3 linked regions of the Homo sapiens genome follow. The protein of the gene in region 1 interacts with the protein of each later gene in a pairwise test. Each region holds a gene or a part of one and is shown in the gene's direction. Other genes may lie near its edges.

Region 1 (3,654 bases):
CCTTCGGCTGGCATGGCAGCTTAAAGCCACGGAAAGCAAGCCTGGAAAACAGCAGTGGGCGGCATTCAAAGAGCAACTTAAAAAGGTGAGGCAAGGAACAATGGGATGTGAAAAGGAATGAAATTCCGACACAGGCTAACATGAGCGAACCTTGAAAACACTAGCTAAGTGAAATAAGCCAAACACAAAAGGATAAATATCGTGTGATTCCACTTATAAATGAGGTCCCTGTAGTCAAACTCATGGAGGCAGAAAGCAGAATGTAGGTTACCAGGGACTGGGAGAGAGAGGGAGGGAATGGGGAGCTGTTAAATGGGTACAGAGTTTCTGTTTGGGATGATAAACAAGTTCTGGAGGTGGTTGGTGGTGATGTTGATTGCACATTGATGTGAATGTATTAAATATCATGCCTCTGAACTGTACACCCCAAAATGGTAAACATGGTAACTTTTGTTATGTGTATTTTACCACAATAAAACCAAAAAAGGCAGCAGAAACCAAGGGCCTTACTTCTTGGTGGTTTAGAACCCTGAGCTCATGCCACATCCTGAGTGTTTTCATGGGGTTTGAAAAATTTGATCACACTCTGCGTCATACCTAGAATGATCAAATTTGCTGGAGATGTCAAAGAAAATGCATGTGTAACTGTCCAATATTTATTTCAGACTTCTCACAACTTAAAACTTCTTCAGGAAGCACTTATGCCTGTGTCTGCACTTGACCTCGGAGGGAGCCTCCAGTTCATTTTAGATCTACGACAAAAATGGAATGACATGAAGCCTCAGTTCCAGGTGAAGAAATATATTGCTGGATTTGGGTGAATGGAAAAAATACTTAAAACTGTTTGGTTGCAGTTTACCTGATTAATTGTAACAGGCTGGTGAATTTCTATTTTTTTAAACAAAAGTATTGCTTGTCTAAAAATCCACTGTAGAGACATTTTTCTTACTTTTTTCCTGCATTCTTTTGAATTTGATGATATACCAGCATTAGGGCTATACAATGTCCTAAATAGATTTTTATATTAGATTTTTAAAATTCACATGGCTAATTAAACTAGTAATATATTTATCCTATATTTTCACTCTAATTCTTTTCCTTGGGAGTGCAGAGGTGTTTTAAATTGAGACATCTCAGAACAAGGATGGGCAACCTCGGACCCAGAGGCTCTGCTGCCCTGGGTCCCTGAGGTGACCACTGTTATGTCACTGTCCTCACCCACCAGCACCCCAGGCACGTACCATCACCCCAGGAATTTTGCTGTGCCCTCCACTCCACCTTTCAGGATATGAGCAATAAAACCATGAGTCATGTTCCTGACCCTGACTGCTTAACACAGTCCCTATTTCCCCACCTCCTGCCTCTCCAAAATGTGACACAACCGCCAAAAATTGCCACCTGCTAGTCACATTATACTTCTGCCTGGATTCTTATGCTTTGCTGCAAAATTTAGATACCTGTGTTTCTAGCTGTCACTGCTTCATAAATGTGGGCTTCAAAGAATCCCAGAATCAGAATATTGAAGATTCCTTTAGGGAATATCTAATTGTAGGTTCCTTTAAGACAAAAACCGATGTAAGTATAACCACCGCACCTGCTACACAGAAACACACCCACCATTGTAATCCACAGCAAACTCTTATAAAACTCTCAGCAAATGTGACTGGCCTATATTAGGCTCTTTAATACACCCTGCGTTATCTGCTTATATGCATTTTGTTTGTGTGCACGTTTGCATGTACGTGTAAGTTCCTCTAAATCAGGACCATTGTCACACCTCTTTAGCCCTGTCACTGTGATGCACATATATTTAATGCCCAAATGCTTGAACTTGAAGACCCTTTTTAGGTCACTCTTCTGAAAATTATCTCCTTAGTCTAAATCATTTCCATTACTTTTACCTTTCATACAAAAGATCTACACTTGAAATTATAGTAGCATTCTCTATCTTTCTCTCACTGTCTTTTTTTTTTTTTTTTTTTTTTTGAGACAGAGTCTTACTCTGTTGCCCAGGCTGGAGTGCAGTAGCACAATTTTATCTTGCTGCAGCCTCCGCCTCCCAGGTTCAAGTGATTCTCGTGTCTCAGCCTCTGGGGTAGCTGGGATTACAGGTGTGTGCCACCACGCCCAGCTAATTTTTGTATTTTTGGTAGAGACAGGGTTCTGCCATGTTGGCCAGGCTGGTCTTGAACTCCTGCCTTCAGGTGGTCCACCCTCCTTGGCCTCCCAAAGTGCTGGGATTACAGGCGTGAGCCACCATGCCCAGCCTATAGTAGCATTCTCTTTAAAGTATGCCCCTTTTGCAAATTCTATTCCAGAATCTGGATTATCTGAGCAATGCTGGGTGAAAGGCAAGGCAGTTTATCCCTCCCTACATGTGATGGCTATTTGTGGATCATGGGATGACCGCTTTTGAAGCAGTCTATCTACTATGCTGTTCAGCTGGTGGTTCATTCTGATCATTCTTTTATCACAGAGCACAAGTTATTCCCCTGATATATTTTTACACCCATCTTCTCATGGTGTTTTTACCATACCACCTGATTCTAGTCTGTATTAAATATCAGAGATAATCATGGGGCTGCATAAAATATCTAAAATACATTTACTTAACAGATGAATAGAATATTTGGTATGCCATAGAAATGTATGACTTTGTTTTTCCACCTAGCTTTGAAACCTTTGTTGCATTGCTCATGCTATTTTTTTTTGTAAATTTCTCAGGTGAGTATAGAAAAACATATCTCTATCATCCAGCACAATGCCCAAATATTTTGGAGGGTGGGGGCATTCATAATAAGTATTTGTTAACAAATGAAAGAGTGATTCATTGTTTAGACCTTTATATTGTCAGTTGTAAAGTAAAAAAGTTCTTTAATAGCAAGATTTTTTTATTGCTTTCAATGTTTTAGCAATTGAATGATGAGGTTCAGTACATTATGAAAGAATCAGAGGAGTTAACTGGCAGAGGAGCCCCTGTAAAAGAAAAGTCTCAACAACTGAAGGACCTTATTCACTTCCATCAAAAACAGAAAGAGAGAATCCAGGATTACGAGGATATCCTGTACAAGGTGGTCCAGTTCCATCAAGTCAAGGAAGAGGTAAGGCTTAGAAGGGATGTCTGAAAAATCCTGAGTTTTAAACTATGCAATTAAAAATGAATTATTATATAATAAATAAAGGCCAAATTGTGTCTTCTAGTATCAGAAGTTTACACAATCTGGCCCCTATCTTTTCTCTCACTATGTTCCTATTCTTCCTTTTGTTCCAGCCAAACTGAGCTCTTTGTCCCTCAGAGATGATGCACACATCCCTAACTCCAACCCTTGACTCTCAGGCTGCCATTATTTGACAAGTCTGTCTTTCTCCTCCCTCTTATCTAAATCCTATACCTCCTTCCAACAATCCTACCTCACTTGGAATGATTTCTCTCTCTTCAAAAATCCTACAGCTCATTGTGTATTCCACATATCTTGCATTTTACTATCTTGATTCTTAATTACTTTTTGATAAGCATAGCTTCCCGCCCACCCCCTCTCCCCCGCCCCAATTCAATTCTAGGCTCTTTGAGGGCGAAAACCAAGTTAGATTTTTTTTTTTTTTTTTTTTGCACTTCAAGTACCTGACATCATGGAGTGCTATTTGTTGGTGGCA
Region 2 (3,654 bases), on another chromosome or scaffold:
TCCACACCCTGAATTGGAGGGGGAGAAAGTAGGTGAATCCCAGGAGCTGGGGGTCCCCGGTTTACACCGCCCGCCTTAGGAATTTATTCTGGTGTCCAGCATGAGCAGGAAGTTAAGTCAGGTGTTTTTTTGTTTTTTTTTTTTGAGACTGAGTGTAGCTCTTGTTATCCAGGCTTCCAGGCTGGAGTGCAGTGGCGCGATTTTGGCTTCCTGCAACCTCCACCTGCTGGATTCAAGCAATTCTCCTGCCTCAGCCTCCCAAGTAGCTGGGATTACAGGCGCTCACTACCACGCCCGGCTAATCTTGTATTTTTAGTAGAGATAGGGTTTTGCCATGTTGATCAGGCTGGTCTCGAATTCCTGACTCAGGTGATTCACCCACCTCAGCCTCCCAGAATGCTGGGATTACAGGCGTGAGCCACTGCGCCTGGCGGAAGTCAGGTTTTTTCCCAGTTATATAATGAATACGGGGTTTCCCCCTCCATACCGTGGATAGTGAGGTGGGATGGTTCCCTCGGTGGGGCCGTCCTGGGCACTGCAGGCTGCTGAGCAGCATCCCTGGCCTCCACCTGCTCTGTGCCAGGAACACCCCTAACTCTGACAACCACAGATGTCCCCAGACACAGCTCGGTGTCGCCTGGGGCAGGGTCGTCCTCAGATGAGGACGGTTGAACTGTGGCAGGTGAGGGGCCAGTGTGGCTGCCCTGCGCTCTGCTCCTCCCTCAGTCTCTCCGAGGCTGTACTGCCTCCAGCTGAGACAGATTCCTGCTGGGCAGGCTAATGGTAGGTGCTGGGCCCTTAGGACAGGGGAGGCCATTTGCCCAGGTCACCCCTGAGTCCATGGCAGGGCTGGGCCGGGCGCCCCCATTTAATGCCTAGCTTCTCGTGCCCAGCCGCTTCAGACCCACCGCCCCCACCTGCTGTGGGGCCAGGTTCCTGGGGCCTCCCAGCCTGGCCCTCACACCTAGTAAGGGTTCAGATCCAGCCGAGCCAGGCTTGGCCATGGAGGCCTCTCTGCCTGGGTGACCCAAGGTGGCGACCTCGTCTTTCTCAGCCTCGTCTTCCTTGTCTATGTACCTGGGTCAGCACAGCCTCCACCTGCACTGGGTCCCTGCTGCAGAGTGCTCAGAGCCAGCCACACAGTATAAAAAAATCAGTTTGGGCTGGGCACGGTGGCTCACAACTGTAATCGCAGCCCTTTGGGAGGCCAAGGCAGGTGGATCACGAGGTCAGAAGATCGAGACCATCTTGGCTAACACAGTGAAACCCCGTCTCTACCAAACATACAAAAAAATTAGCCGGGTGTGGTGACGGGCGCCTGTAGTCCCAGCTACTCGGGAGGCTGAGGCAGGAGAATGGCGTGAACCCGGGAGGCGGAGCTTGCAGTGAGCCGAGATCCTGCCACTGCACTCCAGCCTGGGCAACAAAGGGAGACTCCGTCTCAAAAAAAAAAAAAAAAAAAAGTTTGGTTTTCTCCTCAGAAAGCTTCTGGACATTTCTTTTTCTTTTTCTTTTTTTTTTTTGAAATGAAGTCGCTCTGTCGCCAGGCTGGAGTGCAGTGGCGTGATGTCGGCTCACTGCAACTTCTGCCTCCCAGGTTCAAGCGATTCTCCTGACTCAGCCTCCCGAGTAGCTGGGACTACAGGTGCGCACCACCACGCCTGGCTAATTTTTGTATTTTTAGTAGAGACAGGGTTTCACCATGTTGGCCAAGATGATCTCAATCTCTTGACCTCGTGATCCACCCCACATCTGCCTCCCAAAGTGCTGGGATTACAGGCGTGAGCCACCCTGCCCATCCCACATTTCTTTTTCTTATGTCGAGATATGATTTGCATACCATAGAATATACAGTTTTTAAGGGTGTCATCGAGTGGGTTCTCGTGGATCAGTAGGTATCGCAGCTCCCACCACTGCCTAGTCTCAGGGCAGTCATGTCCATCCCCAGCAGCTGCCACCCTTCATCCACTGGCCCCCACGCATCCCCTCCTGTCTGTAAATGGGTCTGTCCTGGACATTTCATAGAAGTGGAATCACATACTATGTGGCTTTCGTTTATTATTATTATTTAAGACAGAATCTCACTCTGTCGCCCAGGCTGGAGTGCAGTGTCGCGATCTCAGTTCACTGCAATCTCCGCCTCCCAGGTTCAAGTGATTCTCTTGCCCCAGACTTCTGACTAGCTAGGATTACAGGCGTGCACCACCACACTCAGCTAATATTTGTATTTTTTTTGAGACAGAGTCACACTCCGAGGCCCAGGCTGGAGTGCAGTGGCACGATCTTGGCTCACTGCAAGCTCTGCCTCCTGGGTTCACGCCATTCTCCTGCCTCAGCCTCCCAAGTAGCTGGGACTACAGGCACCCGCCACCACGCCTGGCTGATTTTTTTTTTTGTATTTTTAGTAGAGACGGGGTTTCACCATGATAGCCAGGAGGGTCTCGATCTCCTGACCTTGTTATCCGCCCGCCTCGGCCTCCCAAAGTGCTGGGATTACAGGCGTGAGCCACTGCACCTGGCCTAATTTTTGTATTTTTAGTAGAGACGAGGTTTCACCATATTGCCCAGGCTTGTCTCGAACTCCTGACCTCAAGTGACCCACCCACCTCCGCCTCCCAAAGTGCCAGGGTTACTGGCGTGAGCCACCTGCCTTGTGTGTCCTTTCGTGTCTGGCGTCTCTCACTGGGTGGGACATCCTCACGGTGCACCTGTGCTGAGGCCTGGGTCTGAGCCTGGCTCCTTTCCATGGCTGGGTCGCGTCCCGTGCGTGTTGGTCCTTCGGTCTACGGAAGGACACTCAGGATGCTGCTAGTTTGTGGCTGTTGTGGTCAGTTCTGCTGTGAACATCCACGGATGCGTCTTTGGGTAGATAGACTTTTTCCTCTTCTTCTGGGGGCGTTTCTTGTTAAAGTTTATCCTCAGGTGTTACTGGTTTTTGTTTTTTTTTTTTTGGAGAGTGTTTCTCTTTGTTACCCAGGCTGGAGTGCAGTGGTGCAATCATAGCTTGCAGCCTGTGCCTCCATGGGTTCAGACGATCCCCCTGCCTCAGCCTCCAAGCAGCTGGGACCACAGGTGTGCACCACCACGCCTGGGTAATTTTTTGTGGAGACAGTTTCACCATGTTGCGCAGGCTCGTCTCAAATTCCTGGGCTCAAGAGCTCCGCCAGCCTTGACCTCCCAAACTGGGTGTTTTCTTGCCATTGTGAGCCAGCTGCTAGATTCCCGCATGCACGTTTTAGCTATGTTTCTTCGCAGGGAGAGGCACCTGGCTGCCCTCTCTGGTTCAGGGTTTTGCTGTGGATTCTGTTGCATTTTCCAGGGAGGCCAGCCCCTCTCCTGACCTCACAGCCACTCCTCTCACCCAGCCCGTACAAAAGAGTCCTGGGCCTCAGTTTCCCAGCTCTGGGGGAGGGAGCCTTGTGGTGTGGCGGTCTCCACCTTGTCGGGTGGGCTGGGGTCACGCCCTCCTCACTCAGCTCTCCTTTCCTTTCCTCTGGTTTGCTCCACACCCACAGGGAACTGCAGCCCGGAGTTAAAGCCGTGCAGGTCGTCCTGAGGTATGCCCAGGTGTGCCCGCGACCCCAGGGCTGGACCCCCAGCCACCCGCCCCTCCCCGCCCCCCAGTCCTGGCCCAGGCCCTTCTCAGTCTCCCCT
Region 3 (3,654 bases), on another chromosome or scaffold:
AAGGTATATAGTATTATAACATTAGGTGAAGGAAGGAAATTATTGATTCTGCTTCAGTTGATCTTTCTCATTTTAAAAGAGTCAAATCTCACTATGATAACTTTGAACATAATAGAAAACATCTTGATACCCTCATTGAAACAGTATTTTTAAACCATATTCTGGGATCTTGAAATAAAATAGTCTCTTATTTGCTTAAGACTACCATATTGGTATCTCCATCGTAAATATGGCTAAAGCAGTGGTTCTCATACTTTAGTTTCTATCTGAATCGCCTAGAGAGTTTGTTAAAATAGATTACGGGGCCCCGCCCCAAGAGTAAATCTGGGGTGGGTCCAAATATTTACATTTCTAACAAGGTCTTGGTGGGTCCAAATATTTACATTTCTGACAAGTTTCCAGGTGATGCTGATGATTCTGGTTCAGGGACTACACTTTGAGAACTGATTTATCTGAACTCAAAAAATTTTAATGCCTTCCTCATATGAACCATTAATTGTTTCAAATCTATCATATCTAATTACTATCAGTATGCATTGAGTTACTATGTGCTAAGCACTGAATTCACTTATTCACAAAGATGAAGAAGTTATGGAACCTTTCTCAAAGAGCTCAATCTAATAGGATCAACAGTGGTAGTATTACAATACTCAAAGTAATCACTGTCTGTATTGAGTGCTCAGTGTGCCAAGTACTATGCATTATGTAAACTCATTTAATCCTCACAATTGGCATATAATCCTTATTTTAAATGAAAAAACTGAGGTCTAGAAAGGTTAAATAATTTCCCAGAATTCATATAGTGAGTATATGGAGGAGCCAGAATTTGCTATTCTGCCTTTTTGCACTATAAAAAGTTTGCGAAGATTGGTAGACCCCAGAAAGGATGGAGTAATTGGCTCTACCTTAGAAAATCAAACAGCATCACAGAAGAGATGGCACTGGAGCATCTTAAGGGACAGGTCTAAGATAGCCAGATGAATTGGAACTGTGAGCATTTCCAGCTGAGGGAGCAGTTTCTGCAAAGCCAAGGAAACCCGAGAGAACATATGTTCCACAGACTACAAATAGTTGTATAAGACCATAACACAATAGGCAGATGGAGTATAAGAGGAAAACAGACTGTATAAGGCAGAGGTCAAAGTCATAAAGAATTTTATATGCCAGGCTAAAAAGTTTTAAAAATAGAATTAGGCTTCTTAATTTTTCCTCCTATAACTTTCATTTGTAAGCCAGCAGTTCTCAAAGCATAGTCAGACAGTAGATTCCACATCATCTGGGAACTTGTTAGAAATGCAGATTCCTGGTTCCATGCCTACTGAATCAGAAACTCTGAGTGGGGGAGCCCAGCAACCTGAGTTTTAACAAGACCTCCAGATGATTCTGGTGCATGCTAAAGTTTGAGACCCCTGCAGTAGGTTATAGAATTCTTGAATAATAGCCTTCAAGATAGTTAAAGGTCACTATAGTGGTAGTAATTATATTTGACACTGATTTATTCTATTAGAGTACAACACCTAACAGTTGAAATATTAACACCATTTAAGGGATACATCTTCATCATGATCTATTTATACCTTGCAAACCTGTTTCTTCTGTTGTCATAAAAGAGATCTTAGGACAAGAGTTTGTTAGGTCAGCATTCAAAGAATAGCATGCTAACTATTCTTCCTTAGCTATGGGAATCATTCTAAAACTCGCTGACTGATTTTAATTATCAAAAAAAAACCCCAGTAATTTTTGTTTTTTTTACTGCTTGTTAATACATAAAACTGATGTTGTAGTTAGTATTTAAGGTGTGCTATTTAAACCAAATGTGTTGAAGGAATCAAATGATTTAAGTCATGACATGACTTAAAAGTAATTCAATCTTTCCTTGTCATGTCAATAAAAATATAGAAAGTATAATCTGGGATTCCCAAGCAAACTAATTTAAATGCCTGTCACCGTCTTTTTTGCCAAAATGTGTTCAGTATTTGTGGTGAATATGTCTGCATGGTATCTGGCACTGAAGTATATACTAAAGCGTTATGGTTGACTTAGTGGTTCTGTAGTTTATAGTTACATATAGTCATACTTTGCACAGCTCACTAAAAGCATTTAAAGCCCAGCACATATAAAGTATTTGTTAATGATCCATAAATCCTTTCTAGATATTAGATATACAAAACCTCTTTTCATCTTAGAAATAGTAGCAGCAAGAAGTGAAGGTAGTATGCTGTAATTAATGTGGTTAATGCTCAAATAAACAAACGTAGTTTCCCATGTAATGATTCAAGATTTCAAGGATTTAGAAGTGGAAAGTCCATTGAGGCATTGACATCAACCCCTTGTTTTACAGATGGGGAAACTCAGATCCAGGGAAGTTAAATAGGTGATTTGCTGATGTCCCATAGGAAGTGAATAGCAGGATATCACAGGACAGGATATTTCTGAGCCTCAATCTGATACAACATTATGGGTCCACACCATCTAAAGTAAAGTAGTTTCCAGGTATTTTAGCACTAAAATCTTAGGTGGAGTATACTTTATGAAGAATATTTAGTAACATATAAAAAATTATCTTTTCGTATTGATACAATAAGCTACAGTATCAGATTTTTCTTTACAAGAGTAATTTTTAAAAACCTAATAACTGTTTTTAGAAATAAAATTCATTAAAAAACAATAAAAGGGTATAAATTCCAGCTATTCTTACTACTTAATACATGGTAGAATATAAACCACCAAAGAGGACAATTAGCCTTCTGTGTTATTATCATACAATTGCTAAGGTGATATTTGAACTTGGAATGTGCTTACAGGCTGGATAACTTTTCAGTTATTCCCAAGAAGAACTGATCTAAACCACACATACCTTATAGGTGATTTTTGCCAGCAAGTAACCTACAGTCAAATACATGTAGGTCTGCCAGAATGTTGTTTCTTTTTGTTTTTTTTTTTTTTGTTTTTTTTTGAGATGGAGTTTTGCTCTTGTTGCCCAGGCTGGATTGCAATGGCGTGATCTCGGCTCACTGCAGCCTCTGCCTCCTGGGTTCAAGTGATTCTCTTGCCTCAGCCTCCTGAGTAGCTGATTACAGGCACCCGCCCCAAGCCTGGCTAATTTTTTTTGTATTTTTAGTAGAGATGGGTTTTCACCACGTTGGCCAGGCTGATCTGGAACTCCTGACCTCAAGTGATCCACCTTCCTTGGCCTCCCAAAGTGCTGGGATTACAAGCGTGAGCCACCACGCCCGGCTGAATGTTGAGTTTCTTGTTAACCAATCCTACCCAAAGACTTTCTGAACCATTTTTAGAAGCCATTAAGTTTTTTTTAAAAAACTAGATGTTAAAGTATAAAACTTATACCAGAAAAGTCTTACTAAGAGGAGGGACTAGAAAAAAAAAAGTCAAGCCATCATCTGAATTTTACTACAATAAGTAATTATTGGAATTTCTACATGAAAGGCAATTAGAATGTATAGTTGGTTAATGTAGAAATTTAAGAGATACGGAGAAGACACTGCCCATTTAAAATGTATCCTTTTAAAACCACTGAACAGAGAAATTCTTAATACAATTGAGAGTTAGTTTTAAAGTAGCATACATGTATTACAGGCAAATTAGAAATGTTGGCACTACAAAGGACCTGTAGAAATCATCTATTTACTGAGA

What was found.
Region 2: the proteins of CCDC141 (region 1) and PIAS4 interact in binary tests that used the Homo sapiens proteins (3 or more experiments, as listed by UniProt).
Region 3: the proteins of CCDC141 (region 1) and TSC22D2 interact in a two-hybrid assay, tested with the Homo sapiens proteins (one study listed by BioGRID).

Annotation. Positions count from the first base shown.
Region 1 is NC_000002.12:178,868,564-178,872,217, reverse strand, and holds part of CCDC141 (coiled-coil domain-containing protein 141), read left to right. Parts: coding exon 1-85; intron 86-665; coding exon 666-791; intron 792-2,912; coding exon 2,913-3,101; intron 3,102-3,654. UniProt on the Homo sapiens protein: Plays a critical role in cortical radial and GnRH neurons migration during brain development. Regulates cortical radial migration by negatively controlling the activity of histone deacetylase 6 (HDAC6) and promotes centrosome maturation.
Region 2 is NC_000019.10:4,024,631-4,028,284, forward strand, and holds part of PIAS4 (E3 SUMO-protein ligase PIAS4), read left to right. Parts: intron 1-3,515; coding exon 3,516-3,557; exon of another isoform or gene 3,558-3,559; coding exon of another isoform or gene 3,560-3,567; intron 3,568-3,654.
Region 3 is NC_000003.12:150,453,249-150,456,902, forward strand, and holds part of TSC22D2 (TSC22 domain family protein 2), read left to right. Parts: intron 1-3,654. UniProt on the Homo sapiens protein: Reduces the level of nuclear PKM isoform M2 which results in repression of cyclin CCND1 transcription and reduced cell growth.